Linked DNA regions of Homo sapiens. The protein of the gene in region 3 purifies or fractionates together with the protein of the main gene of each other region. This does not show direct contact. Each region holds a gene or a part of one and is shown on either strand. Other genes may lie near its edges.

Region 1 (7,110 bases), on a different chromosome or scaffold from region 3:
TTTAAGATATTGCCAATTCACAACACTCTGGCCTTTGCTCATTAATCTGAGTATCACTTCTTTCTCTTAGTAATAATTTCCCCTGTTTAGGAACATGGCAGGAAACTTACAACGAGAAAGCATAGTTCACTCTATAAAAGGACCAGTAGGAGGTGCCCTTAATAAGGCCAAGTGTCTAGTTTACTGGCAGAGAAATTCCCATTCAGCCGGGTGTTTTAAAGACTTTGTTGATTGGTAACAAAGGATTATGGAGACTAGCACAATAGCACTGGGCCCTTTCCCACTTTCTAGGTAAAGTCTGAAGCTGCTGTAGATTTGTATGAAACTGTGATGATTTAACAAAGGACAGCCCTGAAAAGTGTCAGTAGAGAGTGAGGACTTGATGTTGGGGGAGGAGGATGGTGACTTTTTAGTTGGCTTCTGTAAGATGTCATCTTCTTATATATTTGACATGAGCCACAGGCACAGGAACCTTATAGAGTCTCAGGGGATCTCAGATAAGATAACAATTTTGGATGTTGGATGTTAATGAGTGAAAAATGAGGCATACATATTAATTAATTCTTCATACATGTTTGGGTTCCATTGCATTGAAAAAAATCTGTGAGTGTTTAATGTAGTCTGGATATGCTGAAATGAGGCTGGTCGCCCTCCCTAGGCGACCTCTTCTCATTCCCCCAACCAAAGCAGATCAGATGCCCCCATGTGGGTTTGCTTTTGAGTGGCGGGAGTATGGCAGAGCCTGAGGGCTCGGGGTAGGCTGGCAGTCCACTCCTCTGTGAGTGCCGCAGTATAAATCACCAGTACCTGTCAGTGTCCATTTCCCACACAGCAGCAGCTGCCCTCTGAGTTATAAAGCATGGGAAACGGCCACCACATGTGTTATATGTGAATATATTAGGCTTAGTGCCTTTGCTTTAATGCTCTTAAAAGCCAGGCTGGCTTGAGATGCTGATAGGCATTTTTTTCTGGGGAGAGATTTATAACTTCTCAGTGTGTATGACTTAAATTTATTCTCTGGCAAGTTAACCTCTTAGCAAACTTCCTTATTGTTTTCATTGAAGAGGAAGAGCCTTAATCCTACCTAAATTCCTGAATGAAGCTCTGCTGAAAGTTTCTGCTAGAGTACAGGATATTTGCAGGCTGTAGTATGGTTTCCTAAACCAATGGGAAGCTTGACAAGATATATGGGGAGGTGATTTTTTGGTGGGGAGGCGGGGATATTTTTACTTGTTTTTAGAGAGGGAAGTTGTGATACTGCATCTTCTAAAGGAATTCTAGCAACTCAGTTATCTCAAAAGCATCTTTAATGAGAGGAAATGTTTCTCGCTTCCAGTTTCATACATCTAACAGTCTGGGATTCTTCAAATGCATATAATATGCTCCTGGAATGTTTGCAGCTGCACGCAGTAGGGTCATCTAGCAGGATCACTGTCATTTGGAAATGAGCCCTGATTTAAATTTTGACTTGCAGACAAAACACTTATCTTTACCTGGTGCGGCATGTTTAAAAGCAGTGCTGAAGTTTCTGAACAGAATATTTCTTTCCATGGGAGACTGTGCCCTAAGATTACATTTTAAAGTAAGTGTTCTTACCATTTCTTTGGAGAATTTGCCATCCCAAACTTTGCATGTGAAACTTCTTCTTCATGATTCTACCAGTAAAGATAACTATTTAAAGAGAATGCAGTTGTTTCCGGGTATTTCTTTAAAATTAAAATTCAATGTCCACATCCACACACAAACAAGGAGGATTTCCACCCCCTCATACCTTCTCCTTCAAATAGCTGACTTTGGTGTGAATTATGATAGCTCTAATTACATAAGGGCACTTGCAATTTCCCTAGAGAATGAGTTCTTGCCTGATTACAGATCTTCCTACTTTCCATAGGAAGTTTCTGGCCCACACTACTATCAGAAACTTGCACCAAATTGGGAACACATTGCTCTGTTTTGGTATTTGCTACCCAGCTATACATTTTTGAAGGATTAATCTACCTCAGATGATAATCTCTTAGATGAACTATATACATAAATTTCAAGAAATCTTAGCTTTGCCTGAGGCCAAAGAATAATGTCACAAACCTGCTGAAATTACTTGATTAATTGATTGATTAACTAAGGATAAAAAGTCACTTGGTTCTGGAAAAGTACTGTACTCCCTAAAGAGTTCTAAAGAGGAATAGTAAATACTATGCACATTTACAATTCATAAAATGTAAACGTCAAGTCTTCTTCCCCCTCTTTTTCCATTCCTTCCTTATAATGCTCTGGAGGAAAATTTAAGAGTTTCATGAGTTGTCACAACAGTTATATCTTAAGGAATCATAGCTTGGAATCTCACTAACTCATGATTAATAGACACTCAATTAAATAGCAACACAATGTCCGGTGAATTTTTCGGCAGCCTGCTGTGGGCTGCTTGCTTGTTTTCAGCTCGTTTCTAAGGAATCAAAACTCTCATCTCTAAGAGGTGTGGCATCAATACTGCCTCCCTTGACGCAGCCCAAGAAAGCCTTTCTCACTCTGAAACCAAGGCTGTGACCCACAGGCACTGTGTTTAATATGCTGTGTTCCACTTTGCAAGGTCAGGGGGATTTGCCTTAAAAATAAATTTTTAAATGTTCATGCATGCTGCTTTTGGTGGAGAGTTAAACTGTACTCTAAAAGCAGCTAAATAGTGTTGTTATCTTAAGACATTCTAACTTGTGGCCTCTCAGCCAATATTATTGAAGTTCTAGAGCTCACAATCTTTAAGAGAGACAGGAGTGAGCTCTATAAGATAATAGGTTATGCCAACCTAGTTAAGCTACTTTTTTCCCCAAAATGGTGTTACCAGGTTGGAATAATAGAACGTTAACCTTTTTCAAAGTTACTACTTTTCAGAGGAAAAAACATTTCTTAATAATATCATAATATCAGTAGCATGGGACTGACCCAATGTATTTAAGATATTGTTCTTCAAAACAAGATATCAAGGAAAGCCAGTGTTAAACTTGTCAAGAAGAAAGGATGAACAATCCAGATTATTTTCCCTGCAGGCCAATAAAAAATGTGCAAGATAGAATTACATGTTGCATATGCCAAATAGGTAATAGCAAAAAATAAAATGTAAAGTATTATGCACCTTTATCATTGCAGGACTCAGGTAAATGAAACACAATTTAGTAACACACTTTTTCTTTCTCTCACTCTAGAATGTTAATTCCTTATCTTATATTTCTCTGGTTTAACTCCAAACTAAGATGGAGAAATACAGGTTGGCTGACTGATGATCAAAATTATTATAGTGCTCCAAAGTTATTTGACAAATTTTAGCCTGAGGTTTAACAACTAAATCCCTTTAATTCAACTATTAAGTGAAAGTGTTTTCTTTGGTAGTTTAGAAATACCTGAGCTTTGTCCCAATGGTGTGGTTTAGAAATACATAATAATGCATAAGATTGAATATGCCTTCTTTTTCAATATTGATGGGAATTTGCCAATGGTAATACCAGTGCATATTGCTCTTTTATTAATAGTTCCAAACAACCATATTATTCACAGCTTTCATTTCTTGGGGGGAAAAGTTCAAGTAGGAAACACACAAATCATTCCATATTTATTGATCATATTTTTAAGGCTATTCTTATGGCATGACTTCTGTAGGAATGTTTCTCTTTTCTAGTAAATTCCACGAGCCCAGTGTCTATGATCTACTTCTACTTCGTGATATACTTTAGCTTAATTTCACTAATCCAAATTTTTTGACTTTTAGCTTGCTCAGTCATTTCACCATGGCCCTCCAGGGAGGAAGACCCTTTAAAACCATTTGTGGTTATGATGATGAAACTTAACAGGAGTATTTATTGCAATTTGGAGATTTCTTCCTGGTTCATCCTTTAAATATTGGTTCTTGCCTGAAGGCTACTCCTAAGAGTATCTAGGACAAACATGTTCCACTGAATTAACTGAATCTTTAGGATGTTATCTGATGAAAATACCAACTGGTTAGTGAATTGTGTTCTGATAAGAGGACTTGTCAATACAACATTATTCTGGGCCATCTACAATGTTCTTAAATCTGTGTTTACATTTTGACAAGAGAAAAAAGAAGTTAAGCAGTTAATATAAATGTTTTTAACTCAAATCACATTTTTAGATTTTACTTATTTTTCTATAGTCTTTTAGAAATATTTCTCCACTCACTTAGCTGCCTCTTTAAAAGTATGTAGAACATAATTTAACCTGTTCTTAATAGATACAATACATCACTATGACTTCATTATAGTATTATGTGATTTTATAGGGATAATTTTTGAAGGCATTGCATCATACAGAACTGTTTATTTTTCCCATCAATTGACCATGGACTGTTACTATTGTTGAGTTTTATCTCTGGCTATAAAATATATTTTGTCTACATCTTGTGTTCAGCTGAAACTTCTCCCTGTATAAAACTTCCTCAAAGCAGTTCTCTCTTTTAGTTTTGATGTTAAGACATAGGGGACTAAGTTTTGTTGGGGTTGTGTTTAAAGTAGGAGAGGAGATTAGAAAACAGCACCTGAATCCCTTATTAGAGGAATATCTAATTAGTTTTAACTAATGATTCTGTAGCATCTGATATTAATTTGGATGTCACTTGTACTTTGTACAACGTATTTTTCCTTATTAAATGAGAATGTGGACTAGATCAACTCTAGTTATTAGTTTCAACACTATATAATTTATTTAAATTATGAACTGTACTATACATATAGTGTTTGGTATAATTAATAATACAATTCATGATCATGATAACAATAATAATAATGTAATAATAACAAATACCCATGTACCCACTAGCAGTTTTCTGATTTTTGTATTAACCCCTTGCCTTTTGTACAGTTTTTCCACATATGTATACATCTTTAACATGTTACTTTACTTGGCTGTTCTTAACAGTAATAAAATAAATATAATGTGTATATTCTCTGACTTGCAATTTTGCTGAACGTTAAGTATCTGAGTTTCATCTATGTGGATTCATATTGCTGTATTTCAGTCACTTTCTCTGGTGTATAATACTTCATGATATTAATTAACCATAGTTTATCTAATCTATTGTTGATGGATTTTGAAATTCAGTTTTTTGCTATTGCTAGTAAAGTTGGCATAAACATTCTGGTGCATGTCCACCAGCACAAATTTGCCACCATGTTTAGGGTGCATACCTAGGAGTGGAATTGCTGAGTCATAGAAGGGTATCTTTTCATCCGGGAGGCAAAGACATGTTGCAGTTACTGAAACCCCCACCAGGGGCAGATGAAAGGCCTCTTTGCTTCATGCCTCTGCCAACACTTGGTATTTTCATATGCTTAATTTGCCCGCATCTGGTAACTTCTCATTGTGGGTTTAATTCGCATTTTCCTGATTGCTTATAAGTCTGAACATTTTTTCCATTAATTTGTTAGCTATTTGTGATGTCAGCAAGACAATTCTATGATTCTGTTTCTTCAACTGAGCAACATTTGCTTTTAGACCTTAATATTATTGGTAGTTATTCTGTTTCTTCTACTAAGCAACCCTTTGCTTTTAGGCATAGATGTTATCAGTAGTCTAATGTTCAGGAAGTTGTCGCCTAATACTTTACCATGTTGACTCTGGCCTAGGCTTTATTTAAGCACCTTCCCAAAATGTACACTGATTTTGAGTTGGAAAAGACATTCTTAGTCACTGTAACATTGTTGATTACCCTGAGCAAGTCCTGCCATGTTAGTATCCTGCCTTATCCTGTTTATTGTGTCTTTATAGAGAATCATTTACAGGGAAGCAGGATGCTGGGATGCCAGGCTTAATTTGAGGCTCCTTATGAATCCCCTGAATATAATGGAACTAAAGGATAACAGAAACACAGAGTAGTAATGGTAGACACCAAATCTGAGTTAAAAATCTTAATATGATCATTTGAATTTGGGTATATTTCCAACATGGTAAAATACATAGGCCCAATATCATTGTTACATTTATGGCATATATAACTGTGGGTTTCAAACAAACGTATGTGCTTTGTGCACCATCCCCCCCAATTTTTGTTTGGGTTTATAATTTTTTCACCTGCTCCCATGGGACAGGCTAATGAAGACCCCTGAATGAAATAAAGCCTCAGATGTACTTGCAGAGGCCTCTGTAGTGTGTTGCCTTCTGTGCAGACTCATTAGAGATGTGAGCCAAGGCTGAGACATCTAAGCAAACCCTCTGCACCCAGAGTCCTCAATCCATTGTTCCTGCATCTTTTTTCAGTCTCATGGGATCCCAGAAGAATACAAATTAGAGAGAAGAATCTGCAAAGCTTTTCCTTTCATGTTTAATGTCTGGGCAGAGCTGTTCCCTGCAGGACAATTTCTGGTTATTTTCTCTCTCTGGTTTGAGGCATCTCCAGGGATGGTTTGGTGACTGTTTCCCTTGGGGAAGTTTTCAGCAGCATATCAGTTTTACTGTTAAAAGTTTATTTTACAATTCATCTGAGATAGTCCTGTTCTAAATGTTCTTTCCATTACCCTTGTCATCTGGCTCTTGATTCCTGCATACCCTTTTCAGTGACACTGCCTCTTCTGGGCTGAAATGTGTTCAATAATTCGAGCTATAAATCACTCTCGCCTCCCCATTTGGTCTTTACTTAACCAGATTATAAATATTTAATTCATTTGATTTTTCCTCATACCACTCCAGAAGCTTAATCATGTTTAGTCTTCTTACTTTAACTCCCTCTAGTTTGTTTATATCTTTCTTGTAATCAAGGGGCCTAACTCTGATGTGCTCTTCTAAGTAAGCTCTCCAGAGTCATATTATAAAATACAAATTCAGCATCATCTTTAGCTTATTGTACAGCCATAGACAAACATATGGTCTCTCAAAACTTGTGTTATCAGTTTTCAGGAAGGACTATCAATGCCTAATAAAATCATTGAGATATTATAAGGACCAAATAAGACCAAGTATTTCATTGAAGATAGTACAATAGTTACTGAGCCTTTACCAACGATTACAAATAGATGAATAAAAGATTTAGATGAGTTTCTGCCCTGCAGGGGCTTTTCCTCCAGTGAAGGTGACAGGCACACACAGAGGTAGGTAGGATACAAGGTAGAA
Region 2 (7,110 bases), on a different chromosome or scaffold from region 3:
CCCGGCTTACAGGCAGAGAAAGAGCCCTCAGACAGATGACCACAGCTGTTGCCGAGGGACACCATTGGCAGGTACTGCAATAGCAGGTGCTTGGGATGCTGTCAGCATCTGCTACACACTCCAGTGTCTCCTCCAGTCCTCCATGACCTACAACCCCCAGCTTACAGATGAGAAAACTGAGGCTCATAGGGGCTAATGGCCAGCATCATAAGCTTAGTGAGGACTGAGAGTTGTGTCTGTTTTGTTCACTCTTTATCCCCAACCCCTATAGCAGCACCTGGCACAGAGTAAGCCCTTGATAAATATTCAGTGAAGGAAAGTCATTCAGGGAGTGTGACTTAGTTGAGTCAAGACTTGAACTGGGATATTCTACCCCAAAGCACATGTCCTTCCGCCGCATGGCAAGAACATACCAGTGTCTGCAGACAGCGCAGTGTGTGGCTTGGAGTAGGTGCCTAAAACAGTTGTTTAATTAATTAATTAATTCTTCTATTCTCTACCTTTATGTTCCTTCTTTCCCTCCCTTACTTAGAAATCAGAGAAAGAGAGAGAGAGAAATCAGAGAAAGGCAGGCCCCCATGGGCAGCGGTGGTAGGAACGCCCCCACAGGCGCACACCAGCCTACAGCCCCACCACCACCCATGGGAGCCTTCTGTGAGAGAGAGCCTCTGTTCCACATGGCCCTGGAAAAATGAGGATTTTAACCAAAAATTCACACAGCTGCTACTTCTACAAAGACCTCACCCCAGAAGCCAAGATCCCCTGGTCAAGAGAAGCTGGCCTGATTATGTGGAGGAGAATCGAGGACATTTAATTGAGATCAGAGACTTATTTGGCCCAGGCCTGGATACCCAAGAACCTCGCATAGTCATACTGCAGGGGGCTGCTGGAATTGGGAAGTCAACACTGGCCAGGCAGGTGAAGGAAGCCTGGGGGAGAGGCCAGCTGTATGGGGACCGCTTCCAGCATGTCTTCTACTTCAGCTGCAGAGAGCTGGCCCAGTCCAAGGTGGTGAGTCTCGCTGAGCTCATCGGAAAAGATGGGACAGCCACTCCGGCTCCCATTAGACAGATCCTGTCTAGGCCAGAGCGGCTGCTCTTCATCCTCGATGGTGTAGATGAGCCAGGATGGGTCTTGCAGGAGCCGAGTTCTGAGCTCTGTCTGCACTGGAGCCAGCCACAGCCGGCGGATGCACTGCTGGGCAGTTTGCTGGGGAAAACTATACTTCCCGAGGCATCCTTCCTGATCACGGCTCGGACCACAGCTCTGCAGAACCTCATTCCTTCTTTGGAGCAGGCACGTTGGGTAGAGGTCCTGGGGTTCTCTGAGTCCAGCAGGAAGGAATATTTCTACAGATATTTCACAGATGAAAGGCAAGCAATTAGAGCCTTTAGGTTGGTCAAATCAAACAAAGAGCTCTGGGCCCTGTGTCTTGTGCCCTGGGTGTCCTGGCTGGCCTGCACTTGCCTGATGCAGCAGATGAAGCGGAAGGAAAAACTCACACTGACTTCCAAGACCACCACAACCCTCTGTCTACATTACCTTGCCCAGGCTCTCCAAGCTCAGCCATTGGGACCCCAGCTCAGAGACCTCTGCTCTCTGGCTGCTGAGGGCATCTGGCAAAAAAAGACCCTTTTCAGTCCAGATGACCTCAGGAAGCATGGGTTAGATGGGGCCATCATCTCCACCTTCTTGAAGATGGGTATTCTTCAAGAGCACCCCATCCCTCTGAGCTACAGCTTCATTCACCTCTGTTTCCAAGAGTTCTTTGCAGCAATGTCCTATGTCTTGGAGGATGAGAAGGGGAGAGGTAAACATTCTAATTGCATCATAGATTTGGAAAAGACGCTAGAAGCATATGGAATACATGGCCTGTTTGGGGCATCAACCACACGTTTCCTATTGGGCCTGTTAAGTGATGAGGGGGAGAGAGAGATGGAGAACATCTTTCACTGCCGGCTGTCTCAGGGGAGGAACCTGATGCAGTGGGTCCCGTCCCTGCAGCTGCTGCTGCAGCCACACTCTCTGGAGTCCCTCCACTGCTTGTACGAGACTCGGAACAAAACGTTCCTGACACAAGTGATGGCCCATTTCGAAGAAATGGGCATGTGTGTAGAAACAGACATGGAGCTCTTAGTGTGCACTTTCTGCATTAAATTCAGCCGCCACGTGAAGAAGCTTCAGCTGATTGAGGGCAGGCAGCACAGATCAACATGGAGCCCCACCATGGTAGTCCTGTGAGTACCCAAACCACCCATGTCTGCAGCTCCTCTGTCAGTCCATAAGCCCGAGTGACCTGAGCACCAGAGGCATGCTCACTGAGCCTGGCCGGGGGTGGGGGTGGCTAAAGGATCAGGGTCTCCAGTGACTTCTAACTGCCCAATCTGACCACCATGCTCTGTCTACCTAAGCTCCTCTGCAGTGCCCGGCTGTGGGGCAGGCCCTGCTTGCTTCTGGAGAGGCCACTGGGCCCTGCCGTGTCTGCCACCTCTCCTCCTACCCTTAGAATGACCGTCCATCTTCTCTCCTGGACGTGCTCCCACCTTCCTGCTGACCTTAGCTACCCCCACACTCCCCAAGGATCAGGCAGCCCCCCTACCCCTGCTCCTCTCTCTGGGCATTCATTCTCTCGGAGAAATTGCTCCTCCAGCTGCTTCAGGAACCCTTTCCATGACAACGACATTGGCCCTGAGATCTTCCCCATCAGCTCTCAAAAAGAGTTTCCTATTTTTCCCTGCAAAACTGACTTCATAATTATTTGTGACCGTGGTGCCACCATTGCCCCACGCACTCAACCTGAAACCCACTCTCTGGCTGTGCAAGAATAGCTTCCTCCAACCATTCTCCAGCCCGGCAGTACTGAGAACTTCCCCATCCCGGTTCCCCGACCTCTGTCGTGGTATCGATCACATGCTATTGGTATGTGTCTATGTCCTGCTTTAGATGATTCATTCCATAAGTATTTATTAAGCACTGATTCTATGCCAGGCCCTACAGATCACAGATTAAAAAGCACAATACGTGCCTTAAGGAGCTCAAAAAATAGGGGAGAAGACAAACATTCATTTAATGACAACAGAGTGTGATGTCTACAACAGTAGAGGTATGGACAAGGTACTGTGGTGGCCCAAGGAAGGGAGTGATCACACGAGTGGGTAATAAAGATTCTCAGAGGAAGAAATGTTTGATGTGGGCCTTCATATTTATATTTTTAAAACTTTTTCTCACAATAAAATTCATGTTCATTATAGGAAAAAAAAAAAGATATGTAGGCTGGGTGAAGTAGCTCACACCTGTAATTCCAGTACTTTGGGAGGCTGAAGCAGGAGGATCACTTGAGGCCAGGAGTTCGAGACCAGCCTGGCCAACATGGCAAAACCCCATCTCTACCAAAAAATACAAAAATTATCTGGGCATGGTGGCACACGCCTGTAATCCCAGCTATTAGGGAGACTGAGGCATGAGAATCACTTGAATCTGGGAGACGGAGTTTGCAATGAGCTGAGATCGTGATACTGAACTCCAACCTGGGCAACAGAGCCAGACTCCGTCTCAAAAAACAAACAAACAAAAGATAACGTAGATAAGCAAAAAGATGAAAAATAGTATCAATAAGAATTCCATCATTCTGTAATAACCATCATTAAAAATTGGCTGGGTGTGGTGGCTCACACCTGTAATCCCAGCACTTTGGGAGGCCGAGGCAGGTGGATCACCTGAGGTCAGGAGTTCGAGACCAGCCTGGTCAACATGGTGAAACCCCATCTCTACTAAAAATACATAAATTAGCCGAAAATGGTGTCAGGCGCCTGTAATCCCAGCTACTCAGGAGGCTGAGGCAGGAGAATCACTTGACAGGTCAGGGGCAGAGGTTGCAGTGAGCTGAGATTGTGCCACTTCACTCCAGCCTGGGAAAAAGAGCAAAACTCAGTCTCAAAAAAAAAAAAAATTAGTGGTCAATTGTAAGAACCCCAGTCTTTTTTCTGTGCACATGTCTATGGCGAAATCGAACCATATTGTACATTTTATTTTATAGTCAGTTTTATTTTCTTTATATATCAAGGCTATCTTCTTGTGAGTGGGTGTGGGGTATTTTTTTTTTTTTTTGGTTTGTTGTTGTCTGAGACGGAGTCTCGCTCTGTCCCCTAGGCTGGAGTGCAGTGGTGCAATCACAGCTCACTGCAGCCTGGACCACCCGAGTTTAAGGGATCCTCTTACCTCAGCCCCGCTAGGAGCTGAGACTACAGGAGCATGCCAACATGCAGCGATAATTTTTGTATATTTTTTGTATAGAGATGAGATTTCACTGTGTTGACCAAGCTGGTCTCAAACTCCTGGGCTCAAGCAAGCTGCTCACCTTGACCTCCCAAAGTGCTGGGATCACAGATGTGAGCCACCATGCCCAGCCCTTCATGTGTGTGTGTGTGTGTGTGTGTGTGTGTGTGTGTGTGTGTGTGTGTAGAGAGAGAGACAGAGACAGAGACAGACAGAGTCTTGCTCTGTCACCAGGCTGGCATGCGGTGGCACGATCTCTGCTCACTGCAACCTCTGCCTCCCAGGTTCAAGCAATTCTCATGCCTCAGCCTCCAGAGTAGCTGGGATTACAGGCACGCACCACCACACCCAGCTAATTTTTTGTCGTCTTAGTAGAAACGGGGTTTCACCATGTTGGCCAGGTTGGTCTTGAACTCCTGACCTCAAATGATCCTTCTGCCTCAGCCTCCCAAAGTGCTGGGATCACAGGCATGAGCCACCATGCCAGCCCTTTATATATTTTTAAGTAGTCTGATACAACACCATTTTGAATGACCACATGCTATTCCATAGGGAAAGTGCCATGGCTGATTTGACCATTCTCCTGTTCTTGGCCATTTTAAGCTGCTTCTAGTTGTTCATAGTTATAAATGTGAGGTAGGCTTTAAAGGACCTGGATACAGGTACTGCAAGTAGCAGTGGACAGGTGGGAAATCTTCAAAGAGTTCCAAGCAGCTAGAGGCAGAGACCAGATGGTGGCTGGCCGGGGGATGGGGGCTGGGATAGGCAAAGGGAACCAAGAACACCAGGCCAGAGAGGAGAGTTTGGGATGGGCGGGAGCAAGTGGAGCCTTAAGAGAATGCCGTGGGAAAGTCAGAGGCTTCAGCCACAAGTGGGAGGAGAAATTTTCAAGGAACTGAATCAGCTAGACAAGGCAGAGAGAAGAATAAGGAAGCTACTATAAAAAAAACAAGAAAGTTCAGGAAGAAAGGGTGGAGGTTGGCCAAGGGCTGTGTGAAGGAAGAGGAGAACCAACCAGAGATATTAAAGAAATGAAGATGACAGGATGGGAGCTTCCAGGTGTTTGGCATGTGATTAAGCATTGTGCATTTTCAAGTATAAATTTTTAATTTTTTTTCAGTCACCTTGATTAAGGATGGCAAATGCCAACGGAAATAAAAAATTTAAAATGTATTTTTCAAGTTTCACAAAACTAAGTAAGTGTAAAAGAAATTCAAGTAAGCTTTCATTTATGGCTTTTTTTCGTGTGTGTGTGTGTGTGTGTGTGTGTGTGTGTGTGTGTGATGGGATCTCACTGTGTCTCCCAGGAATAGTGCAGTGGCATGACCATACCTCACTGCAACCTTGGCCTCCCAGGTTCAAGCCATTCTCCTGCCTCAGCCTCCTGAGTAGCTGGGACTACAGGTGCACACCACCACATTGCCTAATTTTTTTTATTTTTTGTAGAAACAGGATCTTACTATGTTGCCCAGGCTGGTCTTAAACTCCTGGGCTCAATCGATCCTCCTGCCTCTACCTCCTCAAGTACTGGGATTACAGGCTAGAGCCACTGCACTCAGCTGGCTTTTTTTATATGTTTGTAGTACTTGTACTTTCACAGTTATTAAAACTTAAAACTGCTCTAGGACTTTTGGGATACTCTTTAGTAGCTTTTAATTCTCACATACCCCTCTGCAGCAGGTGCTATTGCTGTCCTCTTTTTGCAGCGGAGGAGACGGAGTGAGGGATAGAGAAGCAGAGCCCACATGCAGGCAGCTCCTTGCCTCTGCTTCTTGCCCCCACATGGCTCTGCAGACTTAGGGGAAAAGATGAATTCAGGTTGGGGACTTGTTGGGACAAATTAGATCAAAGAATTACTGGGATGTCAAGGTGGGGATATCCAACCAGAAAATAGAAAACTCAGTCTGAAACTTGGAATAGAGATTTGAGTAGTTGAAGCCTTGGAGGTAGATGAGGTCACTAAAGTAGTGTGTGAAAACAGATTAAATGGGTGGAAATTCCATGAGTCGGAGTCTACTCTAACACCCTCAGACAAAGCCCGTCATCTCTTCCCCTCAGGCTGCAAATATTCTCTCCTAGGGCACTCCCCACAGCCATCCCTCTCCTGCAGACCCTCTTGTTATCCTGGGAAGGGGATAGGGTCCCATGTGAGCCAACCTGGACAGCAGTGCATATGATCATATACAGTCTTCCATCACAACATCCTCAGGCCATCTCTCCCAGGCTCTGCTACTGCCTCCCGTCTTCTTTCCTGGGCACTGGGACTCCAGAATGTCTGTGCCAAAGGAACACAGGTGTGTCTGCATCAAAGGGAGGAAGGCTGTCAAATTTTTTTTAAATTAAAATTGTCAAATTTTTTTAAAAAATTTTTTTCTTATCTGCAGTGCTCAGCACCGAGGCCAGGCCCTATGCTGAGCAGTGCAGATTTAAAAAAAAAAAAAAAAAGACAAATGTCTGTCCCTGCCCTCAAGGAACTCCCAGACTGAGGCAGAAACAGACACACAAGGTGAACACTTCAGTGTGCTATGGTAAGGGCTGTAGAATGAGGAGCCACATGGAGGAGAGGGACCTAGCCCTGGGTGACGGGCAGACAGGCAGGGAGGGCTGGTCAGTACTGGAGATGGCACTACCCGCTGTGGCCTGGTGCTCAGGGGGACAAAGCCCAACTGTGTTGTGCAGGGCTGGGCACCTCAAACCCCTGCCAGACACATCACATCTCTCCTGTCCTTCTCTCTCCCCCTCAGGTTCAGGTGGGTCCCAGTCACAGATGCCTATTGGCAGATTCTCTTCTCCGTCCTCAAGGTCACCAGAAACCTGAAGGAGCTGGACCTAAGT
Region 3 (7,110 bases):
CAGGGCCTGGATCACAGTCACATTCTCCAGGAGTGTTTTTGCAGGGGACCCTCTGGATCACTCCTACTCCAACTTCAGCCTATTTTTAAAAAAATTTCTCTTTTTTTTTCTGCAGTATGTATACATAGTTAAATATATATTTATATTTTTTAACCAAAGCTCTTGTTAGATGCCTTCTTTCCTGAGTAGCCCTCTGTGCTCCGCCTTACCCCACCCACCATGAGCCCTACTGCAGAAGACCTCATCCCGGAAGACCTCCGTCAGTGTCTCCACTTCAGTAGCTCTGTAGCTGAGCCATGTGGGGCACAAGTCCTGCCAGGACCTCTCTGTTTTCCAAGCTTGGCACTGCCTTTGGGGAGTCTAGATTTTAAAATGGAAAAGACAAAAAATATGGCAACCTAAAAAAGAAAATAATTCAGAATGTTATAAGCTAATACAGCCATCTCATTTTTGCATCTTCCTTTTGGATTCCAGCCCATGAGCACAGTCTGCTTTTCTCAGCTAACGTTATCCCTTAAGCAGTTCCCCAGATCTCCATGGCCTTCATCATCACTAGCTCAAATGGCTTTATAATGGGCCATTTTCATGACATGCACTAATTTACTAAACCATTTTCCTAATGTCGGCCATTTAGGTGATATCTAATTTTTGGCTCACACAACCACAGGTGTCTTCATATAGAAAGCTTTTGACTGCATTTGAATTATTTTCTTAGGAAATTACTGGATTAGAAGGTGTAAACATCTCCATGGATTTCATTATCCATGACTTGGTGTCTATTTGGTATTTTTCTGATGGCTTCTTTGATTCTAGAAAAGGATTTGCCATAGTGCAAGAAGTACAAATGATAACACTAGGACAAAATAGAGAGGGAACACAAGGAGAGAAGAAAAGTAAAAGTTTGGATTCCAAAAATACATCCTAGGATGTCCTGCAGCTTTCTACAGTTCTCTAATGTACAAGTGAATTAAAAATTTAAGGTATACAACGACTGATTTTAGAGATAAAATCACTTTGCAGATGTAAAGAAACATGGAAAAATCCCAGCCATTGGTAATAGTAGACTCAAAAATGAGGTAGGTCAAAGTCCCAGTCAGCCTCTGTCTGGGGGGAAACCCCTTAACTTATCTCAGTCTCAGTTGCCTAATTACATAAAATGGAATACTGATAGCTACTTGCTAGAGGTGGCCTGCGCATTTTTTACGCTTTCCAGCCGCCATTGGAAATAAGATCATTGGCCAGGGGCGGTGGCTCACGCCTGTCATCCCAGCACTTTGGGAGGCTGAGGCGGGCAGATCACGAGGTCAGGAGATCAAGACCATCCTGGCTAACACAGTGAAGCCCCATCTCTACAAATAATTAGCCAGGTGTGGTGGCACACGCCTGTAGTCCCAGCTACTTGGGAGGCTGAGACAGGAGAATCGCTTGAACCCAGGAGGCGAAGCTTGCAGTGAGCCATCGCGCCACTGCATTCCAGCCTGGATGACAGAGCGAGACTCTGTCTCAAAAAAAAAAAAAAAAAAAAAAAAAGATCACTTTCAAGATCCATGGAATCTGGTGTTCTATAGTTCTATATCTGGTATTTGCAAGACAGAAGTCAGGAATAGAGACTCCAGACACATTTCTTCCCTTGGTTGTCTTAAAGGGGACACTGTGATCTTGACAGCCTGAGTAAAGGGTTTGAGTGAGTGCCTATGATATAGTGGACAGTTTCCTCAACTATATTTCTAAAAAAAGACAAGTTTTATGTCTTTTTAAAAATTGTGGCAAAATACATATAACATAAAATTTACTATCTTAACCATTTTTTTGGGGTGATTGCTTGAGCTCAGGAGTTTGAGGCTGGAGCGAGTTAAGATCATGCCACTTCAATCTGGGCAACAGAGCAAAAGTGTGTCTCTTAAAAAAAAAAATGCCTGTAATCCCAGCACTTTGGGAGGCCAAGGCAGGCAGATTGCTTGAGCCCAGGAGTTTGAGACCAGCCCGGGCAACATGGCAAGATCCTGTCTCTACAAAAAATACAAAAATTAACTGGGTGTGGTGGCACCTGTAGTCCCAGCTACTTGAGAGGCTGAGGTGGGGGATCACTTGAGCCTGGCAGGTCAAGGCTGCAGTGAGCTGTGATTGCACCACTGCACTCCAGCCTGGGTGACAGAATGAGACTCTCTCAAAAAACAAAAACAAAAACAAAAAACAATCCCCCAAAACAAAACAAAAAACCACTGCCCTCTCCCCACTGAATGGTCCTGCCACCCTTTTCAAAATTCATTTGACCACGCATGTGAGGGTGTATGTCTGGGCTCTATTCAATGACATTGACCTATGTCTGTCTTTATGCCAGTACCATACTGTTTTGATTACTGTAGCTTTGTAGTAAGTTTTGAAATCAGGAAGTGTGAGTCCTCCAATTTTGCTCTTTTTCCAGATTGTTTTGTCTATTTGGGGTCCCTTGAGATTCTCGTGTGAATTTTAGGATAGATTTTCTATTTCTGCAAAAAACATCATTGGGGTTTTGATAGGGATTACATTTAATCTATGGATTGCTTTGGGTAGTATTGAGATCTTTAAGTTTTCTAATCCATGAACATAGGATATATTTCCATTTATTTATATCTTTTTTTTTTTTTTCTTGAGACAGAGTCTCGCTCTGTTGTCAGACTGGAGGACTGTGGCGCCATCTCGGCTCACTGCAACCTCTGACTCCCTGGTTCAAGCAATTCTCCTGCTTCAGCCTCCTGAGTAGCTGGGATTACAGGCACACGCCACCACGCCCAGCTAATTTTTATATTTTTAGTAGAGACGGGGTTTCACCATGTTGGCTAGGATGGTCTCAATCTCCTGACCTAGTGATCCACCAGCCTCGGTCTCCCAAAGTGCTGGGATTACAGGCGTGAGCCACTGTGCCTGGCCTATGTCTTCTTTATTTTTCTTTCTTTCTTTCTTTCTTTTTTTTTTTTTTTTTTAGATGGAGTCCTGCTCTGTTGCCCAGGCTGGAGTGCAATGGCACGATCTTGACTCACTGCAACCTCCGCCTCCTGGATTCAAGTGATTTTCCTGCCTCAGCCTCCCAAGTAGCTGGGATTACAGGTGCCCACCACCACGCCTGGGTAATTTTTGTATTTTTTAATAGAGACGGGGTTTTACCATGTTGGCCAGGCTTGTTTCAAACTCCTGACCTCAGGTGATCTGCCTGCCTTGGCCTCCCAAAGTGCTGGGATTACAGGTGTGAGCCACTGTGCCCGGCTCTTTTTCTTTTTTGAGACTGGGTCTTGCTTTGTCACCCAGGCTGAAGTGCAGTGGCGCGATCACTGCACACTGCAGCCTCAACTGCTTGGACTCAAGTGGTTCTCCCACCTCAGCCTCACGAGTAGCTGGGACCACAGGCACATGCCACCACACCTGGCTAAATTTTTTATTATGTGTAGAGATGAGGTTTTGCTGGTCTGGAACTCCTGGGCTCAAGGGATCCTCCTGCCTCAGCCTCCCAAAGTGTTGAGATTACAGGCGTGAGCCATGGCATCCAGCCTTCTTTCTTTCAGCAATGTTTTGTAGTTTTCATTTTACAAGTCTTTCATCTTGGTTAAGTTAATTTCTAACTATTTTATTATTTTTGATGCTATTGTCAATGGAACCATTTTTGTAATTTCTTTTTCTGATTGTTCATTGTTAGTGTATAGAAATGGAAGTATTTTTTGTGGTTGGCTTCGTATCCTGCTAATATGCTAATTTTATTTGTTCTAATAGTGTTTCATCTTTAGGGTTTTCTGCATATAAAATCATACCATTTGTGAGTAGAGATAATTTTACTCCTTCTTTCCAATTTGAATGTCTTTTATTTCTTTTTCTTGCCTCCTTGCTCTATTAACTTCTAGTAATGTGTTGAATAGAAGTGGCAAAAGCAGAAATTCTTGCCTTCTTCCTGATCTTATAGAAAAAGGTTTCAGTCTTTCACCATTGAGTATAATGTTTGCTGTGGGTTTTTCATATATGGCTTTTACTATGTTGAGGTAGTTTCCTTCTATTCTGAGTTTGTTGACTGTTTTTATCATGAAAGCTTGTTGAATTTTGTCATGTGCTTTTTTCTGCATCAATTGAGATGATGATGTAGGGTTTTTTTCATTCTCTTATGAACCCCAAAAATCTGAGACAGGTCTCAGTCAATTTAAGAAGTTTCTTTTGCCAAAGTTAAGGATGCACGCCCAGGAGACAGGTCTATGCCTTTCTCTGAACATGAATTTTAGGGTTCCAAATTTAAAGGGGAAAGGGCAGGATATTGAGAAGTACACAGTTTTCAGGTAAGAGCAGGGTAGGGGGAAATAGTCATTCAAGCATTTGTCTGGCTCAGTGAATTTGCATTTTTACGTAAGGTAACATAGGGCAGGGGAAAATGCAGGGAACCTGCATTTTTACGTAAGATAACAAAGACAAATGGGGCAGGGGAATAATCAGATATGCATTTGTGCCAGGTGGGCAGAGGGGTGATGCCTCTGTAAAGATAAGCTATCCATTTACATTGCCGTGGTGAATTTTATCAGACAACTATCTTGGAGCTCACCAGGAATTTCCTTGTGGGCAAAATATGGGAGAGGTGTGTAGCTTTTCATCTTGTAGCCATCTTATTTAGGAACCAAAACGGGGAGGCAGGTTTGCGTGACCCAGTTCCCAGCTTGACTTTTCCGTTTGGCTTAATGAGTTTGGGGTCCCAAGATTTATTTTCCTTTCACACTGTTAATGTAGTATATTGCACCGACTTTCATATGTTGAACCATCCTTGTCTGTGTATTTCAATGACAAGAGGTGTTTGTTTCTGCTTCCTGCAGAGCAGAAAGACCATGGGTTTGAGGTGGCCTCCACTTCCCCTGAAGACGAGTCCCCTGGCAGTAACCCCGAGCCAGATGCCACCCCGTTCCAGGAAGGTTTGAGGACCTTCGACCAGCTGGACGCCATATCTAGTTTGCCCACACCCAGTGACATCTTTGTGTCCTACTCTACTTTCCCAGGTGAGCACATCAGAAGGGCTCGTCCTCGCAGCCAGTGGGTCTTCCCGTCTGCCCTAGAGGCAGCTGTGTGGTGAGAGAAAAGACCAGGGTATGAGTCCTGGTTCTGTCTTTTGCCCCTCTGTGACCCTGAGCAAGTTACTTCTCTCTGAGCCTCGGCTCAGGCTGAGCGGGCAAGGATGCGCGCTGCAAGGAGGCCTGCGCCCTTGGGTTCCTATGCCTCACTTGCCTCTCCTCTGCCTGACCCTGCCTCTGCCTTCGCATCTTTAGCAGGGGAATAGGAATCGTGCCTCAGGGGTTTCCATGGGAATTAAACAAGGTGGCTGGCACGTCACTGAGCACAGTGCGGGGCACGTAGTAGTTGCAGCAAGCGGTAGTTTCCTTCCTTCTTTTTTTTTTTTTTTTTTTTTTTTGAGATGGAATCTCGCTCTGTTGCCCAGGCTGGAGTGCAGTGGCGCGATCTTGGGTCACTGCAAGCTCTGCATCCCGGGTTCACACCATTCTCCTGCCTCAGCCTCCCAAGTAGCTGGGACTACAAGCACCTGCCACCACGCCTGGCTAATTTTTTGTATTTTTAGTAGAGATGGGGTTTCACCGTGTTAGCCACGATGGTCTCGATCTCCTGACCTCGTGATCCACCTGCCTCGGCTTCCCAAAGTGCTGGGATTACAGGCGTGAGCCACCGCGCCCAGCCTTTTTTTTTTTTTTTTTGAGACGGAGTCTTGCTTTGTCGCCCAGGCTGGAGTTCAGTAGCATGATCTCAGCTCACTGCAACCTCCACCTCCCGGGTTGAAGTAATTCTCCTGCCTTAGCCTCCTAAGTAGCTGGGATTACAGGCATGCATCACCACACCCAGCTAATTTTTGTATTTTTAGTAGACACAGGGTTTCACCATGTTGGCCAGGCTGGTCAAGAATTCCTGACCTCAAGTGATTTGCCCACCTCGGCCTTCCAAAATGCTGGGATTACAGGTGTGAGCCACTGTGCCTGGCAGTTTCCTTCCTTTCTTATGTCTTGGATGAGTCACTTGACTTTTCCAAGCCTTGGTTTCCTTGCTGGGAAAACAGGAATTATAGCCGGAATCAGGGGATGGTCATGAGGGTGAAATAAGATCATGATTAGGGCAGAGCCTCAGGGGCCAGGCTGCTCCTGTTGGATGTATGTATGAGTCAAGGTCTGGAGGGCGCCCGAGCCAGCGTGCATGGCCAGAGGGGTGGTGGGGAGCCGGCGGAGGGGTGGCTCTCCAGCAGTGTTCAGCCCTCCTCCCTCCAAAGGTTTTGTTTCCTGGAGGGACCCCAAGAGTGGCTCCTGGTACGTTGAGACCCTGGACGACATCTTTGAGCAGTGGGCTCACTCTGAAGACCTGCAGTCCCTCCTGCTTAGGGTGAGTGCTGCCTTCCTCTGCAAAGGAGAGGGGAGGCTGCTGAGGGGCAGCGTGTCCTCCTGGGGCTGGGGATTTGGGGTGAGCAGGGCAGGCCCAAACCAAGGGTAAAAGGTAGTAGACTCCTGCCTCTGAGCCTTGGAGTCGGCACTTTTGTGTCTCTTTATGAGAGGCATCCTGCCTGTGGTGACGTTTGCCCTTTATTCAAAGAGTTGCCTTCCCTGTCTCCTCCAAGGTCCCCAGGTTGACACCTCCCGCTCCTCCACTGATGGAGCTGGTCCTCAGTGCCAGCGCAGGATGGCTCTGTCCAGACCCTGAAGGCGGGTCATGGGCCCCTCCCTATATCCTGTGGGCATCATGTAGTCTTCTACTCTTGACCCTCAAGAATTGTGAACCCCTCCTTGTACATCGCCTTCTCAGGAGGCCCCAGTGAGGAAACAGATAGGGAAGGGTGGCCTGATAGGCCCAGTCCTACTCCATAGAAACCCGACTCAGAGCAGTTGCTTCCTCTGAGGGTCCTGTGGCCTTGTGGCTGCCTTGGGAGGCAGCATGTATGGGCCCCAGCTGCTCTGCTCAGGTATTCATGCCACGAGAAGGGGCTGCGAGGCTGGGGCCACTCCTGGCTCCTTGCAAATATTTCAGTCTGATTTGAACTTTATGAATTTGGAAATTTTGAATTTTGAGTTTTTTAAAGGTAAAGTTGAGGTGCGTATTCTTTAAGCCCTCCTGCTC

Evidence for each region.
Region 1: the proteins of CASP9 (region 3) and DCC purify together in Homo sapiens (co-immunoprecipitation; 3 studies listed by BioGRID and IntAct, with this or other methods). This does not show direct contact.
Region 2: the proteins of CASP9 (region 3) and NLRP1 purify together in Homo sapiens (affinity purification with western blotting; 2 studies listed by BioGRID). This does not show direct contact.

Annotation. Positions count from the first base shown.
Region 1 is NC_000018.10:52,343,144-52,350,253, forward strand, and holds part of DCC (netrin receptor DCC), read left to right. Parts: intron 1-7,110. UniProt on the Homo sapiens protein: Receptor for netrin required for axon guidance. Mediates axon attraction of neuronal growth cones in the developing nervous system upon ligand binding. Its association with UNC5 proteins may trigger signaling for axon repulsion.
Region 2 is NC_000017.11:5,553,466-5,560,575, reverse strand, and holds part of NLRP1 (NACHT, LRR and PYD domains-containing protein 1), read left to right. Parts: intron 1-532; coding exon 533-2,237; intron 2,238-5,977; exon of another isoform or gene 5,978-6,070; intron 6,071-6,432; exon of another isoform or gene 6,433-6,575; intron 6,576-7,019; coding exon 7,020-7,110.
Region 3 is NC_000001.11:15,493,163-15,500,272, reverse strand, and holds part of CASP9 (caspase-9 isoform alpha precursor), read left to right. Parts: intron 1-4,820; coding exon 4,821-5,000; intron 5,001-6,271; coding exon 6,272-6,381; coding exon of another isoform or gene 6,382-6,489; exon of another isoform or gene 6,490-7,110. UniProt on the Homo sapiens protein: Involved in the activation cascade of caspases responsible for apoptosis execution. Binding of caspase-9 to Apaf-1 leads to activation of the protease which then cleaves and activates effector caspases caspase-3 (CASP3) or caspase-7 (CASP7).